2 separate regions of the Homo sapiens genome follow, and region 2 is linked to region 1. The links come from fine-mapping of genetic effects on gene expression. A gene starts in region 1. The other region holds a variant in brackets. All regions are shown on one strand. Distances are between the middles of the regions. Region 1 holds the start of IMPG2 (interphotoreceptor matrix proteoglycan 2). Region 2 overlaps IMPG2 (interphotoreceptor matrix proteoglycan 2).

Evidence for each region.
Region 2: its variant is fine-mapped to the expression of IMPG2 in esophagus muscle (GTEx, PIP above 0.99).

The regions. Positions count from the first base shown.
Region 1 is chr3:101,316,180-101,326,394 of GRCh38, forward strand. IMPG2 (interphotoreceptor matrix proteoglycan 2) reads right to left here and starts at 4,396. Exons shown (of 19, transcript NM_016247.4): 1 at 4,109-4,396; 2 at 3,405-3,653. The coding sequence starts at 4,193. SENP7 (SUMO specific peptidase 7) reads right to left here. Exons shown (of 24, transcript NM_020654.5): 24 at 8,026-9,901. The coding sequence ends at 9,764.
Region 2 is chr3:101,279,091-101,289,305 of GRCh38, forward strand. All of the region lies in intron 4 of IMPG2 (interphotoreceptor matrix proteoglycan 2), which reads right to left. Among named protein-coding and RNA genes, the nearest start is that of IMPG2, 36 kb to the right of the region's middle. The variant TA/T (reference allele first, on the strand shown) is at 4,805.

The DNA of each region.
Region 1 (10,215 bases):
AAAAAACTTTGTGATCTTGGGTTAGCAAACTAAGATCAAAAACTAAAAGGATGCTCCCCCAAAAAGCCTGATAAATTTGACTTTATCAAATGTTAAAACTTCTGCTCCTTAAAATACATCATCAAGAAAATAGAAAAGGCAAGCTACAGATTGCAAGAAAAATGTATGCAAAATATATGTTTGACAAAGAACTTAAATTTAGAACACATTAAGAACTATTACAACTCAATAATAGACAAGCAACCCATTTTTTAATGGGCAAAATATTCAAATAGACTCCTCACTAAAAAAAGATATATAAATGACAGATAATTATGTAAAAAAAATGCTCAAAATTGTTAGTCATAAGTGGTTAGGAAAATGCAAATTAATACCACAATAAGATATACATCCACTGGAATGGCTAAAGTTAAAAAAGACCAACTATACCAAGTGTTGAGAGGATGTGAAGAAAACGGAATCCTACTACACTGTTGGTGATACAGTCATATTGGAAAACTTGACAATTTACTGGAAAGTTAAACGTATACCTATCACGTGACCCAGACGTTCCACTATTATTACTCAATAGAAATGAAAATATGTTCACAGAAAAACTTGTACCCAAATGACCATAATTTCTTTTCTTGTAATCAGTAATAACTAAAAACAACCCAAATATCCCATATTGTGGTATATCCGTAATATAGAATACTACCCAACAATAAAAGCTAACAAACTATTGATACACAAAACACATGCATAAATTTCAAAATAATTACACTGAGTAAAAGAAACCAGACCAAAAAAAGAGTATATACCAAAGAGTATATTCCATTTATATATAAAAGTATAGAAAATGCAAACTAATACATAGCGATAGAAAGCAAATTCATGGTTGCCTCAGTATTGGGGTAAGGAGAGGTAGTGAGGGAGGTGGGCATTATAAATGGTCATGAAGAAATGTTTAAGAGTGATTGATAGGTTTATTATCTTAACTATAATGATGGTTTCAAGGGTAAATTCGTCAAAACTAATGAAATGGTATACTTTAAATATATGCAGGCTGTATTTCATTAAAATATACCTCAATAAAGCTATATTTTAAAAAGTCCAACAACGAATATTTTTTTTAAAAAAGAGAGGGGCATCCTAGTATGCTGTTTAATTTTACAAAACATTAGGTTAAATATAGTTGTGTCTTGCTTAGAAACACTTTTCAAATTTGTTACAACAACTAGCAATTGATACCAAATTCTCTATGAAGGAAAAATTGAGCAAACCATTAGACTGAATTAGCTTGGTAGAAAGAGCTAAGATCCTTAATTGGATATTGAATAACTCCCTCCCTCTAAATTGCAAACATTTGGTGTTAAGGGCATAATACAAATTATCTCTTCAAAATCAAGCAAGACCTATGTTAAAATACTCATTTCTGTCAATTTTTAAAAACAAATGAAATATTTATTCTTTACCATGACCATAACAGCTATCTCAGCTATAATCTTGATGTGGTGTGCCAACCATCTTAGCTGTATGAGATCCCTTTTCAAGGATCCTATTCATAGCATCTGTATTTTAAAATCAATTATTCTAGGAATGCTTTATGTTCATTTTTGTCAGCTTCTTTTTCAACAGTATCTCTTGAATTTATAAAAACAAGAGCAAAGCAATCAAAAGGTATGACCAAATCCCTTACATGATTGGTTATTTCCTCTTCACTATTTAATCAGTTCCCAAAATACCAAGATATTCTTATTTTAAAATAATATAAAGTACGGTGAGACCCCATCTCTACCAAAAACACAAAAAAACAAAACAAAAAAAACTAGCTGGGCATGGTGGCATGTGCCTGTAATCCCAGCTACTTGGGAGGCTAAGGCAGGAGAATCACTTGAACCCAGGAGGTGGAGGGTGCAGTGAGCCGAGATCATGCCACTGCACTCCAGCCTGGGCGACAGAATGTGAGTATGTCCCAAAAAATAGTAATAAATAATAATAATAATAATAATAATAATAATAATAATAATATAAAGTAAAAATCCAGGTGGTAGAAATCGAATCTTGATAAATTATTAACTGTCATCCTCATTCACCTTCAGTTCCTTTATTCTCTTCCCACTGTCTTTGGAATTTTCCATTTCTGGCATATGGCCTATACTCAAAATGCCAGGTCTGTGGATCTCCATTTAAAAAGTAAAAGGAAAGCTTATTGCATAGTAATATTTGATAGCTCCCAAATACAATCAAGAAATAGAAATACACTCATAACAAAGAGCTGCCAATATACATTGTACTACTTTAACAAAAATATCAAATATATAAATATGTGTAATAGCTGGTATTATATTAAATTTTTATTGTGTTTTTAAAACTTTGATGAGAAGGGAAGAAGGGAAGGACAGGAAGAGGAAAAGAAGATAAAGTAGCAGCTCAGACAGAAGGTTCATATAATCCAGTGCCTGGAAAATTCGGGCTCAATAAACATTTGTTGAATGAATTAATGAATAAATGCATGAATTTAAAAGCCTCATTTTACAATCACTTCATCATCTAATTTCACCTTGTTTACTAACATCACATCCATATTATGGCTTTTTATTGGTTCTTGAGCAGTAAAAAGCAAAGTTTGGGAATCCTTCAAATGTCTAAGGGACATACTAAGGTCAATTAAGCAATTTAGTAAATATATGAGAAACAGAATTGACTTACATAAAAAGTATGAGATCAAGAATACTGTTTAAAGACAAAATAAAATGTGAGATTTTGAGAAATGCCATCATTTTAGATGTGAAAATTTTATGTGTACCAACTAGAGAGCAACCTGTGTGAATCTGCAGAATATCTAAACTATAAAATATAGAAACATTATATTTGTATATATAATAACTATTAATAAATAGGCAAGCAGGTGAGTATACTTTGGTAAAGCTATTTTGTGGGTATACTTAGGCATTTACTGTAATGAAGAAGTAAAAATTAAAATTAATGTAGCCCAAAACATAAACTGGTATTTTTGAAGTGCTTAAAAAGATTTAAGACATTTCCTCTCTGAATATGTTGTTGAAATTAATGAAAGACATCTTATTGTGACTGCCCTCATGTGAAAAAAGTTTCTTACATAACGCACCAAAAGCTACAAACTCAAATCATGAAAGCGTTCTTCCTTTGGTTCAAAGTGCATGTCATTATTAAATGATATTATTGCCTTAACTGGAGGGCACTGGAAAAAAAACAAACCTCCTCTCTTAATGTAAACTGTTCTCTGAAGTTACCATTAACACTATATTCTTAGCAGTAGAAAGGTAGTTTTGGCTCAGTCCTGTCTAAATTATCGTAAATTTTGATTTACAATGTTACCTAACAAATGATTAAACTATGTTTGAATTTCATTATGGAGCTGAAGGATTTGGATGTTCGCTTACCTCGGACTTTAAAATACTTCACATGATTTGCCACAGCCTCTGCAACACTTTCATCTGGGCAGATTTTCACTCCATTAGGAAACAGAATAGATCTCCGCCTTCTGATTAACCACTGTCTTTCAGTTTCTCTGCGGTCCAGAGGCTGTTTCTTTTTGGTAGCTAGAGAAAGGTCTGTTGATTCTTCAGGCAGGAGAAAAGAAACTGCACTCTTGGGTTCTTGGATCTCCTCTATAGATAAGTAGGTTTGTGCTACAGAGTGAAAGTATAGTCAAGTCTTCGATAATGAAGATACAGTACAAAAGGTAACAACTAAAGAAAAACTGACACTTGGGCTACATTAAGATAGAGAAGCCAGTGCCCAAATCATAGGCAGGCATGCATATCTAAGGAAAAGAGGAGTGAGGCAGTCCATCTTTTTCCATTTAACTCCCACTCCTTTCATTCAAGATTGTTATCAAAATCAAGTAAATACACATCCAATTTCAACAAAATAAATAAAAGTAAGGTTTAAACCAGAAATTACTAATGAGGGAAAACCAAAATTATTGGAGATATTTTAAAACGGTTTAAATGAAGCCATATCAAAGATTAATAAAGTAGTATTTGATTCCATTTCTTACAGCAATCACATCAAATAATCCTATTTTTGAAGAACATATACTACAGATATGGAAAGATAAAAACAAATGTAGATTTTTAAATACCTGTTAATGATGGAAAGTCTCCTTCTATCAGGACAAATATCAAAATACCCAGAGAAATCTTCCCAAAAAGAGGAAACATAATCATTTGGGCCAAAACCAAAGGAATGAGGAGAGGACAGAATCCTTAATTGAGTGTCCAAATCCTTGAAACTTCCAATAACAAAGAGTTATAGGAAAGACCTAACATTTAAAAGTCTATGTTTGAGAATGAACAACCACTTCAAAACCATTATAAATTAGCGGAAAGAAAAATGGTTGTCCTTTCAAAGTAGCTCTCACTTCTTTTCTGAAATAACCAGCATGCTATAAAAGCTGGTGAGATAAGCTAATTAGAGCAGATGGAGAGAGACAATTTCTTTATTCTAATCTACCTAAGCTCTTTACTAACACTCTCCTTGCCTTTAACAAGCAGTCCACTAAGAATAATGTGTTTCACATATAATTCACTGATTTTTCCAACTTTTCTGAATCTGTTAGTTCTGGGTTTTCCTAGGGACTAAGATGTATAAGCATAAAAAGTCCAGACTGACTATATCTACCTATTTCAATAATACAGAGCTACGTACAAATTTAGTTTTTGTAATGAAACTATTCTCTTGCAAATTTCCTTCCTTGATAGAAAAATCACTTACTTTGTCTCCTTCCTTACGTATAAAATGGAATAGAAATAGTAAACTCATGGTAGAGCTAATGTGAGGATTAAATTAACTAATTAACTAATTCAATCTTCACTTTGCTTAGAGTAGTGCCCGGAACATATTAAGCACTTAATATAAATGATAGCTGTGCGATAACTTTGTTGCTTAATTTGCCATTAAATGTGAGGCCCAGTGTGTTTATCTACATGAGGAACTCTTAACCAAGAAAACATTTTCCCTGCAGATGAAATTCTCTATATTAGAACAGTTTTTTAAATCAAGTAAACCTAGTAGAAAGCAATTCATCAGAATCCCTGTGGAAGCTTGGATTTACTATCAAATAGCAATGAAATTATATTTTATTTCATGTTATCTCTGGCAAAATTCTCTGAAAAAAAGTGTATTGTAAAGATCTAAACCACATTCCTCTTGAGAATCCTTGACTAATTGTGTTAGCTAAATCACCCTCAATGTTATTTTATGCTTTAGGAAAAGCTCAAGTATATTTTTTCAATACAGCCTCAAATAAACCACATTTTCAGCCTTTATAAAAGCTAATAAACCTAAATGACCATTAAATATATTTGCATAGTTGTATTTGCAAAATACTGGTAAGCTTATAAGAAACTTACTTGCCAAATTTATTGTATGAGTAGGAGAAAAAAGCCGAAAATTTTATTAGCTGAGTCAAAGTTTAATCTTAAGAAAAGCTTCATATTGACAATTCAGAACAAGGGACAACTCTTAGGTAACAAATATTAGTTGGCAATTATTCTTTTTGACAGCCTTGACCAAAAAGCTAAAAAAAACTTCTGAGAATCATAGTAATCTAGAAAGATTCCTGTATTTAGATTGAGAAACCCTGGACTCAAATCTTGGTTTTATCACTTAATATTTGATTTTGGTAAATAACCTAAGCTCTTTGAGCCGGTTTACTCACCAAAGAAATTACATGTGATAATCTCTACCTGTATCACAGGGTCGTTGTTAAGAATTAAGAGACATGAAAGTTCTCTGTAAACTACTGTATTTGTATTACCAGTAAACTTTGTAAATAGGAATTGTTTTGTATTACAAGTGTTCACAGAGTCCAAACATGTTTCAAGCTTTGAAATTCTATTTTGCTCAAGCTCCAAAATAAATTTTCCATTAACTTATATTTCAAACAGAGAATTCACATAAAAACTTCTTAAACATTTATTATATTATGTTCTATAAAATATAGTTGGTATAATTTCAGAAACCTGTACTTTAAAAAAAGAAATATAAGAAATTAGATGGGTTCATTTGTTTCTAAATATGGTCATCATTTTACAAATTCAATTTAACTTGACATTTATTTGTAACTTTTAACTGTAACTTTGTATCTATGATACAAAGCAGGTGATGCCCGCTATTAAGTTTGTGTCATAGGAATCCAAAAGCAAGAGTAACTCCAACTAGAAAAAGCAAGAGGGTGTGGGGGAAGCAGGAGGCGGGTATTTCAGCTGCGCCTTGAATGGCCTACTTGGCATTTCAGTATTTTAGTGGGCAGAAGTAAGGATTGTTAGTGGGAAGAACTAAGAGTTAGGAGAGAAATCCCTCGTCGTGATCAATAAAGTGGAAAAGTATACTGTTTATAAAGAAAATAGGAAGATATTTGCTGGAGCACGCAAGATAGGAGCATACAGCAAATACGTTGGGAATGAAGGCTGAAAAGTTGAGATTGATTATGGAATACCTTCAAAGTTTTAGCAAGAATTTTGGATTTTTACCTACAGATGAAACATTGTCTCTCTAATGTTTAATTACTCAAAAAAGTATATTCTTTGAGTTTTTATTTAAGGAGATTCTTTTTAGGTAATATTTCACAATCTCATAGGATGGTCCTTGAATCTTTTTATGCTTCAAGAAATGTCCCAGAATCATAAGCATATGAGAAACTAAACATAAAACTCTGTGCTTTAGAGACAACAAATACAGATTCCTTCATCTAAACTTAATTACAAATAAGTCAAGGATCATTTATTGACTCAACAAAATTTTCTGAGTGTTTACTATATGCTAGTAAGATACTTAATATCAGAAATGGAAAAATGCTTCCAGTCTTTGAGGAGCTTACAGTCTAAGGAGAAAAACGTGTATACAAATAATATAAAACAGTAATTAGAGAAGTATATACAAATTGCTATAGGGGAGCAGGAGGGGGAATGAACTATTGTTTGAGTAGGTGTAGGGGTGGTAACATTTACATTCAACTTTGAAAAAATAAAGTTCACAAGAAGTGGTGAAAAGGTATGGAGGTACAATGTCACAACCCCCACTCCACACAAGCATCTATAGTCTTGGGTTCAAAGTGATATTCACACTCATGGGACAACAGTCCAAAATGTGGCTCCAGGCTTACTTTGTAGAAAAATATGGCACAGCAAACAGTGTTATAATAATAATTTCAAGTGAAGTACATCTTCATCTGGAATCTTTATAAGAGCCCTGATTTCTCCAGCCCCCAAGAAGGATGCACTAAGTTGTAACAGAAGAGACCACCTGGGTGGGAGCAGGCCACAGAAGCAGACAGAAGCCTCATACACACAGAACTATGCCTCTTAACAACGCATGGGCAGTTTCCAAATTTCCACAAGGACAAGTTTAGTTACAAGAGACCGCAGAGGAAGTACCTAAATACATGAACGAATAATTTTATACAACTGCAAAAGTAGAGGACAATGGAAAGATAAGAATAGGATATAGGCTGGAACAAGATTAAGGATGGGCTCTATAGGCCAAGTCTAAACCTATTTTTCCTCTTGGCATAAAAAAGTTGATTTCAAAAGGTATTAAACTTTTTTAAACTCCTAATTAGGTGATTGGATATGATTTAAATAACTTCTTTTTTTAACATCCCAAGAGCTGTGAAATTAAAATAATATTATCTTCTCTAGGAAGGCTTGCTTTGTTCACTAACAACCCTCTCTCTACCTCTCTACCTCCTCACTAACATACACACACACACACACACACACACACACACACACACACACACACCCCTCTAGGCTGAGCTCCCTCCTGCATTCCCAAAGAAACTCTATGGTTGTTCTTACCAGAAAATATTTAAAATGTTCACATGTCCATAAATGACTCAGGAACAAATATCATTCATTTTTTGTGCCTAGCAAAATGCCTGCTAGTAGTAGAAGCTAAAATAATTTCCCTGAACTGAAATGACACTCAAATAAACTATATGCTTTTAAAATATGAAGAATAATTAATATAAGCATCAATTTCATGATATACACAGAGCAGCATACAACTGGAAATTTATTTCTAACAGTAGCTCATGTTTCTTAAGGAAAAAAATTACACCTCAATTTAATGAATTGGAAATATGTTTAATATAAAACACTGATATCCTCAAAACATTACTTGCACATTAATTTAGGAAAATGAATTTTAAACAATCTTCAAAACATGATAAAGGACAGTGATATCTTTGAAAAACATACAAACAAAAACATTAAGAAATCACAAGATGTCTTATAGACTTGCTTTCCCAAAATTAGATGTACAAAACAATAGTCACCTTTAAAAGTACCCCCCAACACACACAAATTGGGAATGAAATATGTAATTATAGCCATCTTTATATGAAATATCCAAACAACAAATATATTTAATAATATAAAGATAGTGCCAAAATCAACAAAAGCTAAGAATACTGAGGCTTAACTGACCCCGATTCGTATGATTTTGAAATAAAATGTTCAGACTTTCTAGCTTTATCTTAATTTGCCTTTGCTTCACTGCTTTATGTAGTTATAATGTAAATCTAAGAGATGCTTAAAACAGATTAAAATAATATTGTTAAAAAACATTTTTCTTATCTGAGAAAATACAATATAATCATATCTCCCTCAAAATACTCCTGATAACATTAGAAAGTTCTGAAGTGTTTAATCATATATAATGCCACCATTATCACATGAATTCAGAACTGTTACCTGAATATTTAATAAAAAATTAAGTTCCATGAGGATCATAGGTCTCTAAAAGCTACAATTTAAAAATATAAAAGCAATGAGAGCAATCTGGCTTTGCAGATGAATACTGGGTAAACTGAGCTATAAAATTATATATTTAATTCTACCCATTAATAAATAGGACTGAGGGTTTTCTTTGTTAAAGTTATGAGGACACCAATTTTATCTTCTATATTAGAGAAACTATACATAAATTCCGTGATAATGTGAGTGAATATTTATATAGCAGTACCTCAAGTTGAGCTACATGTATAATTTTTAAAAAACTATTTTGCACAGGTAAAATTTTTTGTTTCAAATTTTACCCTGAACAAATGAACTAAATTATAAGATACTCACATATGACATCAAAAGAAATGAAAAAAAAAAAGCAGAGTAATCGTATTTAGCAATTGAGAATAATAAGCTGCACTTTAAAAGAGCGAATTTTTATCATCTTCCTAACATTATGAATGTCTTTTTGTTACATACAGAAGGGATGCCGTAAATGGCATTTTCTGAAGCCTTGATACTAAATTATTTTTTTAAAAAATACACAGTATTCATACTGCATGCTTGAGCTGCAAAGAATAGAATTACAATATGATGTGACCTGTCAGCAAATTTGACAAGCACTGGGGCTGGCACCAGGGAGGCTTTAACTCCCCTCAGCACCCAGTCACGTGGAAGTACAGATCATGTAAGTTTTATTATCTACAAAACATTCCCATATTACATATGCTGTTGCATAATCCAATCATATTTACTCAGAAAAATATGAAATATTTATAAAATTTTAATTTATATCTAGTAAGTTTATCTATATCACCCCCATTCCCATTCCATCTATGAGATCCCAACAATTCTAATAATGTGTCCTACATATTTTAAATAATGTTCCAATGACTTATTATAAAACTACTGCAAGTTATTTTCTTCTCTGTGAGCTGGCTAACACAAATGCTGGTAAGAGGCTTTCCAGTAATCTTAGAGAACATCTGTGTCATGTTTGTACAGATTAACTAGCTACTGCTGCCCTTCTGTTGCTGTAAATGAAGTTTCAAGATGAGCTCTCGAATATCTTCCCGTTTGGTCTTTATTACATGACGAGGAAACCACTTCTCCAAATGAATTGGAAGTTCAAAGTTAACAATAGGATCCTAATGAGAGGAAAAAAAGAGTGTAATCACTTTAGCAGCATAATTTCAAATTTGTTTTAATTTCATTTTTATAAGAAATGACAAATTGCTAACTTTTTTAAAATAACAATTATATTAAGATATAATTCACATAATACAATTCACCAATAGCATACAATTAAGCATTTTTAGTATATTCACAAAATCAAATCCATCTGGAAAGGGTATGAGAGGGGCAGAACCTGACACCCTATGATGAAGTTCTAGTGTGGAATAAAAAAGGGAGAAAAAACCCAACATAATAGATATTTAATGATTTCCAAAATGTGTACTGT
Region 2 (10,215 bases), 37 kb before region 1:
AACAGGTAAAGCAACTTTCCCAGGCTCACACAAAAATTCCTAATTGTATCCAGTTCTCTTTCAATAATAACAGCAAGAATAATTACAACTAACTTTACTGAGCCCTCATCATGTGTCATACACTGCTAAGTGCTTTATTTAGGTTAACTAACTTAATTCTGGCAACCACCTTAAGAAGGAGATCCTATGATCCCATTTAGACTGATGAGGAAACTAATGCTAGAAGAGGTTAAGAATTTGCTCAGGGTCACACAGCTAAGCCAATGGAGAAGCTGTTATGTAAAATAGGCCCACTGGATGCCAGAAACCTCATTCTTACTCATCTCAAATCACTGCTTCACAACATGGCCCTTATGTGATCCCTACTCTTTAGAAGGGTTTCACTTGGCCTTCATGATACTGGCCTATAAAAACTAAATGACCTAAAAGTCAGTGTGTAAGGTCCCAGAAAGAGGAAGGGGAACCTGGTTAGAGTTGCTCTATGGAGAGCAACCAGATATAAGGATCACAATAAGGCAAAGGTATGAAAGCACAACACAGCAACTCGAATAGGATGTTGCAATGAGGTAGCAGAGAAACCGGACTTCACCTGGGGTGAGTTAAATTGTCTCCGACGTCAAATCAAATTTACGCTAATTCTCTAACTAAGCAAACATTCAGAATGGAGAAGTTTACTTCAGTTGAACTAGATTTCACCTTGCTGAATTCAAAATAACATTATTTTAATAGTGATAAGTAGGAAACTCTTAGTAATTTAAATCACTTGCCTACACTCCAACTCTTAATCCCTCAACCACCCACTCTCCTTTCAAGAGACAGTAAAGAACACTTAACAACAAGAATCCTTTTACATGTTTTCATTAAGTATTCCCCCTGCAGAGATCCTTTAAAATGTCACTCACCACAGCACTGGAACACAGAGGTGTATTGAGCTTGGAAAGAGAAATACTACTTAATTTCTAAGTCAAACCACAAAGTTGAAGCTGTTCAGCTAAGATCTTTAGCTTAATACTAATAACATACAACCCCTTACTATCTCCTCTCCTCATTTCATCCAGCACATTATTCATTCTTCACCACTACTACCTAATCATGTCAATGGAATTCAGGTGGGATCATGTCAACAGCTGCTCATAGCCACATAGAACATATATTTAAAGACATTGTAAAACAAGCCAAGCACAGGTTCATATGCAGATTCCTGCTCCCCTTGATATCTTCTATACTTTGCTTTGCTCTCGAATATGTTACTATAATCACATGTGACCACAAAAGAACTCAAAGAAAGGAGTTAAGAAACCTGAGTGCTAGTCCTAGATGTATCATTAACTTTGTGTATGATTTAGGGAAATACCTTAGTTGCTCTGGGCCTCAAAAACTTACCCTTTAAAACAAGAACACCTCCACGTCTGCCTATTTCAAGAAGGTGTTGACAAAAATTAAATAAAATATTATATGCAGAAGCATCAGAAAAAGTATGAAATGCTAAACAAATATAAAACAGGGGTTAATGGGACAGTGACATATATCATCCCAAACAGAATAAAACATTTGCTGAAAATATATATATATAGGCCAGGCACAGTGGCTCATGCCTGTAATCACAGCACTTTGGGAGGCCGAGGTGGACGGATCACCTGAGGTCAGGAGTTCGAAACCAGCCTGGCCAACATGGCGAAACCCCATCTCTACTAAAAAACATACAAAAATTAGCCGGGCATAGTGGCACATGCCTGTAATCCCAGCTACTCGGGAGGCTGAGGCAGGAGAATCGCTTGAACGTCAGAGGTGGAGGTTGCAGTGGGCTGAGATCGGGCCACTGCACTCCAGCCTGGGTGACAGAGCGAGACTGTTGCAAAAAAAAAAAATTATATATATATAGTGATCCATGATGGGTATTCTCAACTACAATTCTCAACTACAAATGTAAATTAATTGAGACACACACACACACAATCCCAAAGAGCAGTCCTTATACTGAGAATATCACCAGAGACCTGATAATAGACTTGGGTGATTAGGTAGAAATTCTGTTATTAATTTAACAAATATTTAGTAAGCACATATCCTAGGATGAGCCTTGCACTCGTTATTGGGGATGTAACCGTAAAACCAGATGGCAGGAGTTTAAGGAGTGATTGGAGCTAAGTGGACATTCTTTCAAGATGTCTGGCTATAATGGAGATAAATGCGGGCTGTTTTAAAAATAGGTAACATGAGAGGGACTTCAGCATGTTTAAATACTAATGGGAAAGAGTTAGTAAAGAAGGAAGTTGGAGACTCAGGAGAAAGAGAGAAACAATGACAGGCAGAGGTTTCTAAGAGGAAAGACAGAATTTAAGGTCCTGAATACAGGCAGAAAATGTTCTTTTTAAGAGTTGGCAACTGATAGCAGGAGATGTTTAAAATAGGATATAGCAGAGTATTTGGTGCAAGACATACATTAGCAGATGTATTAGAGTTTGCATAGAGGTCTGCAATTTAAATTACAGAGAATTGTGATTGGCAGAATACTAGCCTCCCAAAGAGGGCCATATCTTAATTCCCAGAGAGGGGAATTAAGGTTGCAAGTAGAATTAAGCTTGCTAATCGGCAGATCTTAAAATAGGCAGAGTATGCTGGGTTATCCAGTAGGCTCCATGTAATCACAGGGACCCTTTCATGTGGAAGAGAGAGACAGAAGAAAGTCAGAGTGACGGAATGTGAGAGAGACTCCACCGGCCATTGCTGTCTTTGAAGATGGAAGTGGGCCATGAGCCAAGAAATGTGGGTGGTCTGTAGAAGCTAGAAAAGGCAAGAAAACAGATTCTCCCCTACAGCTTCTAAAAAGGAACATAGCCATGCTGATACTTTGAGACCCAAAGGAGGCTTTTGAACTGCAGAACTATAAGATAATCTATGTTGTTTTAAGCTGCCAAGGTCAGACTAATTAGTTAAAGCAGCAGTAGAAAACTAATACAAGAATCTCTTTACACAGAGAATACAAAAATAATCTCAAAAAATTTATAAAAATAAATTTGAATAGTGGAAATGGGAGTTAATGGAGTAGTGACACATGTCATCCCAAAGAGAATAAAATATTTGCTGAAAAAAATATATATTTGGCTTTGTGGTCCATGGAAATCGTGGGCAAATAAGGGTTTTAATGGATGATGGTAATATTCAAGCGGAGAAAGATAGGCTGAGTAAATTCTTAGGCCACTCCTATGGTATCACTCCCAGTGTGAGCTAGCCCCATGTCATCCCCTTCAGCATCTCCCACAGTCGGCAGTCTCCACCCCACTTCAACCTCATCTGCCCTAGTTTCAGGCAGAATACAAATTTTTAAATTTTCAAAATTAACTTATATTTTAGTTATGTATTGTTATTTCTTTATATGCCTTATTTTCTAAGAATAGTGAATATCTTGTATCCTCTATTATTTATACCTAGTACAGGCAGTGACTTATCAATAGAGATACATGATACATACAGTCAGTTCTGCTATGCTATTTATTTGTAAATTTGTTTCAACATGATTAATATATTAAGAAACAGTTGAGCATAATACAGATTTCTCCTTTACCTATACCCAATTTCATTGTGAGAAACACTAGATGAACAAACAAAACCACCCAGATGAATAGAGACCATGTAGGAATACACCAAGCACTCTCATGCCCAACACTTCAGACATCTTCCAGCTACCTTAGTTCACCCATGAGTTATGAACCACACCTACCCTCGTATAGTGTTACAACTTTCTGTCCTTCTTCACATAACTCTCCTTCCATCACTTTACAATAATTTATAAGCTACAATCTTTCCAGTGTCCAATTTTACGAACAAATGTCAGAAATTCATCAAGGTTAAGTGACATATTTATTATGGTATTTGTGTATTTCTTAACCACATGGGACATGTAAACTGTGCCACCATTTTTATTAGTTTACTTTTTGTTTGTTTTTGAGATGGAGTCTCACTCTGTTGTTGCCCAGGCTGGAGTGCAGTGGCGCAATCTCGGCTCACTGCAACCTCTGCCTCTCAGGTTCAAGCTATTCTCCTGCCTTAGCCTCCCGAGCAGTCAGGATTACAGGTGCACGCCACCATGCCTGGCTAATTTTTTTTGTATTTTTGTAGAGACGGGATTTCACCATGTTGGCCAGGCTGGTCTTGAACTCCTGATTTCAAGTAATCTGCCTGCCTCAGCCTCCCAAAGTGCTGGGATTACAGGCGTTGAGCCACCATGCCAGCCACTAGTTTCCTTTTTTTAAAAAATGTATTGTTGACAAAGTTTTTGGGTATTGTGCCCCAACTTTATTATTCCCATTGCCCCTGTAGTTTTTATTGAGTGATTTTCAACAATTTTTAGGAAATAATATATCATGTTATAGTAGAACTAACTATATGATGAAGGTGTTTTGTTTTCATAGAAAGTTTTTGAATAAACCCCATAAATTTGTTTGTTCTAAGACTCTTTCCAACATGGTACATATATACAGAGTATACAGTAGATGGCCAGAAGCCACAGAGTAGACTTGGCTCCATTTCCAAAGCTTCCATTTTGTGTGATATTTGAGGAAATAAATCAATTTATATAAAATTTATACATACTGATATACTACATAGCAAAATACAAAAGAGTGCATGAAGTCTTAAGAAAAGGAAGTTTGGATTTGCAAAAACAAAACAAAACAAAAAACTCTGAGCTATACTGCCCATATTTTCTGCCATTGAGGACTTTGGGAGAAAAGTTTGATAAACACTGTTCTAAGCAAATGTTAAAATCCCCTTAGCTGACGAATATATAGACTAATAAGAAAAA[TA/T]AAAAATAACTCTGGCTGCTGTGTTGAAAATGTACTGTAGTTGGGAAAGGGTTAGACATGTTAAGAAGCTATTATAAGAATAAAAGATGCTGGTGGCTCATACCAGGGTGGTGGCAGTGAAGATGGTGAAAAGTGATCAGATTCGAGATATATTTTGAATCTACAGGCAACAGAATTTCTTGATGGATTGGATGTGAGGTGTGGGAGAAACGGAAATATAAAGCATGATCACAAAGTTTTGGTCTGCATGACAGACACAATAAAGTTGTCACCAATAGAAATGCAGAGTTAATTGGGTTGGGGGCATGGGAGAACCAGGAGTTCAGTTGTGGATGTGTTGAGTTTGAAATGTCTACTTGACATTCACATAGAGATGTCATCATAAATGAGTTGTCTTCCATCTTCTCAGTTTATAGATAAAAAACATTGCATCAGATTGTTTGAGTCATTTATCCAAAATCAAAGTAGCCAGGTAGAGGCAAAAAGAAAAAGTCTCTTGATGCCCAGTCCAGTGCTCTTCTTAGTAAACCTTCCCAGAGAGTAGAGAACTTTCCAGTAAAAGAGACTCATTGTTTTAATGAATCCAATGAATCAATATTTTTATTGGTAAACAAATTCTAATATTCAATTCAAGAAACTAAATCAAGATTTATTTATCAATATGAACAACAAAAAAAAACAAAATCATTTGAATGGCAAAAGGAGAATGCATAAATATCCTTAGTAGGTATTAAACAAACAAATTCATGTATATTTAGGACAGACTCAAAATCTGTGCCTAGCAGTTTCTAAAAGAAGTAATATTCCTTGTCCTAGCTGTGCACACAGGATTTCAATGCACTTCCAATGCCATCTGCTTACTGTAGTTACCATCATCTCCTGCAGCACAAGTTTGAGAGGGCCAGAGTCAGAGTAGGCTTAATATTTGTCTCTATGTCTGAGATATTTCATAATTTAACCTTTTTTTTAAAGAAACAAAACTGTAAAAAAAATAGAACCATTACTGAATTCTTGCTTTCTAATAAACCACAACCATCAAATTAGTTAACTTTCCTTTTGCTGACATTGCTAGAATGTCCCAGAGACTGTTAACTAATTTGATAGCTCCATTTTTCTGTCACTTAACGACTGGAATTGTAAACAAGTCTCATTAAGTTTTGTGAACTCAGAGAATTTCATCCTGTAAAAATTTCATAGGGTAATTGTGACAATTAAATGTAAAAAATCTTGTTAAAATGTAAAGCTCTATATGTCTATAAATGCAGATGTGTAAGGGATGATGGTAGGGTTGGAGATATGTCATCTCATAAGAGGTCAGGGAGTAACACCACTATCCATTCCTCTACTGGTCCATCTTTGCCCCAAGAGTACTGCCAGTGTGCACCAAAAGGATAATGCTGCGCTAGGCCACATCCCTGACAGAAAGACACACAGGGATCAGTACATTCTGCCCCTACTCTCACTGAATGTGCTACAGACACAGAAAGACATAGACTTCCTGCTCTTCTAGGAATCCTATTCTTGATCATTTGATGTTTTCCTAAAGCCTGAGAAACAGGTATTTTTATTTAAAGTGAAACAACCAAGATTTAGCACAAGTTGTTGATAAGAGAAACACTAAAATTTCAATATCTCTCCTGTCTACAGCTCTGTCTCTCTCATATACTGCCTTATTGCATGGACTCACAGCCAGGCCACATGGTACGTATTCAATATGCTGACAACTGATGGTTTGAGAAACATTATCATGGAGAAGTCTGTCTAATATAAAGTAGTTACTTTCTAAATCTTTCTTCATTTGAAGTTAGTGCCTTTGAATTTCAGCAGATATGATTTTGAAATTGGTACAAATATCTACAGAAAAGTTCATTATATCATTTTTAATTTTAAATTTTTATAAATTTTGGTAGATTTACGGGGTACAAGTGCCATTTTGTAACATGGATACATGGTGTAGTGATGAAGTCTGGGCTTTTAGTATGTAAATTATAGAAACCATTTAAATACTTCTTTTCATTCTTCATGTTTGTCTTTCTCATTCACACACATATATGTACAACAAAGAAAACTGATTTTTTAATCTCTGAATGATGTAAAATATCCTAATAATTTAAATACATATGCATTATAGCATAGGGGTTGAATACTGGCTTTGTGACCTTGGACAAGTCCCTTAAATTCTCTACGCCATAATTTCCTTCTCTTTAAGAGAAGGATAATATTAATACCTACCTCATTATATTGTTCAGAGGATTAAGTAAATTAATACAAGTAATAAAGTACCTAGAACAATGTCTGGCCTATAACTAATACATTAGTATTAGCTAATATTTTTAATTTTATTAAAATGACTCTAATTAGGTGATTATTGAGTATGGTTATTCTAAAACATTTAAAAGGGCAAATATCATTGTCCATTCTTGTGAGTAAGAAGCTTTTTACAATATTCTAAGTAACTGCTGATATGTTAGTATTTTTAGTTATTAGGCCCAGATTTACAGTGAAATGGCATGCTTCAATATCCAATCTAGAAAAATAAATTATGGTCTACCTCTTATAGTGGTCTACCATGAAGTCTACCAGCCTAATTCTATGACAAGATAATGAAGAAAAAGTCTCATCTCTCTTCCCCTTGGCATCTTTATGATGTTTTAACATTCAAGTGCATATCAGTACTTTGAATGCTTGGAAATTATACTGCCTCAACATTTGTAGATATATGTACTCACACTATATATGCCTCGCATTACCAGTCTAGCTTCCGATGGCATGTGCTGCATTATAGGCTAGTTCTCATGATGGAAAACCTTCTCTTCACATGAGCAGAATCATTCTACCTTCTCTGTAAAAATTCCTCTTGGGAGTTGGGATGGTGAAGGAGAGAATGAAGGTGTTTGTTTCCAGCTGATGCACAGAAAGATGGGACAGTTTGAATCAGCAGGCAGGAGAACCCAAGGAAATGAATGAGATGATCAATTTGGGGCAGCTCCAGAGAAAACCCATTATGCTTTAGCCAATTAACAGACTTTCATTCATTTCCCCTCCTTCTCTAATCACCTCCTAGTAGTTGTGAATGAGGTGCACTGTGATCAGGTATTTATTAGTTGATACATTATGCAAGAAATAAATCTCTTAGCAGGAAAAAAGCACAGATCTAAATTTTTCCTCTTTGAATGATGAAATCCAGTAAGGTCTGAAGTTAGGTTTTCAGGAATATTGTGTTACTGTCAGGGTATAGTAACACAGAATCTATTGGAACAAAATGTACTTAGCTTGTAACCATGATTAATTAATATGGAAACATAGCCTTTGCAAAATTTACAGTGTGGCAACCTTGGCCACACCCAAAGCTGAATCAATCAAAAGAGTCTCATGCTCATGGATTGGAAGAATCAATGTCATTAAAATGACCATACTGCCCAAAGCAATTTACAGATTCAATGCTATTCCTATCATACTAGCAATGTCATTCTTCACAGAATTAGAAAAAGCTACTTTAAAATTCATGTGGAACCAAAAAAGAGCCTGAATAGCCAAAGTATCCTAAGCAAAAAGAACAAAGCCAGAGGCATCACACTATCCAACTTCCAACCACACTATAAGGCTACAGTAACCAAAACAGAATGGTACTGGTACAAAAACAGACAAATAGACCAATGGAACAGGATAGAAAACTCAGAAATAAAGCTTCACATCTACAACCAACTGATCTTCAACAAGTCTGACAAAAATGAACAATGGGGAAAGGACTTCCCATTCAATAAATGCTGCTGGGATAACTGGCTAGCCATATGTAGAATAAAAAAAACTGGAACCCTACCTTTTATCATATACCAAAATTAACTAAAAATTGATTAAATATTTAAATGTAAGACCTCAAACTATAAAAATTCTAGAAGAAAACTTAGAAAATATCTTTTTCAACATTGGCCTTGGCAAAGAATTTATGGCCAAGCCCCCAAAAGCAATTGCAACAAAAACAAAAATTGACAAGTGGGACTTCATTAAACTAAAGAGCTTTTGCACAGCAAAATAAACTATCAACATACTAAACAGACAACCTACAGAATGGGAGAAAATATTCACAAACTAGGCATCTGACAAAGGTCTAATATCAAGAATCTATAGGGAATTTAAACAATTCAACCAGCAAAAAGCAAATAACCCCATTAAAAAGTAGGCAAAGGAAAAGACACTTCTCAAAAGAAGACATACATGAGGTCAATATATGAAAAAATGCTCAGCATCAGTAACACTCAGGGAAATGCAAATCAAAACTACAATGAAATACCATCTCACACCAGTCAGAATGGCTACTAAAAAGTGAGAAAATAACAGATGTTGATGAGGTTGCAGAGAAAAAGAAATGCTTATATACTATTAGTAGGAATGTAAATTAGTTCAGCCACTGTGAAAGCAGTTTGGAGATTTCTCAAAGAACTTAAAACAGAGCTACCATTCAAACCAGCAATCCCATATCATTATATCAAAAAGCCACATGCACTCATATGTTCATCATTAGCTATTCATAACAGCAAAAACATGGAATCAATCGAGGTGCCCATCAATGGTGGATTGGATGAAGAAAATATGGTACATATACACCATGGAATACTATGCAGCGATGAAAAAGAATGAACTCATGTCCTTTGCAGCAACTTGGATGGAATTGGAGGCCATAATCCTAAGTGAATTAATGTAGGAACAGAAAGCCAAATACTGCATGTTCTCACTTATAAGTGAGAGGTAAACATTGAGCATATATGGATATAAACATAGGAACAATAGACACTGTGGACTACTAGAAGGCGGGTAGGTGTGGGTTGAAAAACTACATATTGGGTACTATGCTCACTACCTGGGTCCAATATACCCATGTAACAATCCTACACATGTATCCTTAATATCTAAAATAACAGCTAAATTTTTTAAGTCATCCTTTCGAATTGATTTCTCTTCCCTCTCTCTATGTATGGGTGTGTGTGCACATATGCTACACTACGAACACAAGTATGTTTTGATATTGGTCTGATTGGTTAAACAAAGTCAACCAAAGCAATATAAACTGTACATATTAAGATTATACTACATACACGCTTGGTGCTAGTTAATGTAGAGCTTACAACAAATCCTAAAACACAGTTCATTTCCTCAAGAATGTTACCTATTAGGGTTACAAAAATGAGTAAGATACTTTTTTTATTCATTCATCAGGATCCTACAGAAACCTGCTAAAGGCTACATGGTAGGTTTTTCAAGAAGAGTCAGGCTTTAGGTATTTTGTGCAATTACTGATTTTATTCATATTTTGGATTCCTGTAAGGGTATTACTAACTTAGGTTTTTGGTTGTTGTTATTGTAATAATTAAGTGAGGTGACATATTTTACACAGTAAAAGGCAGTATTAATA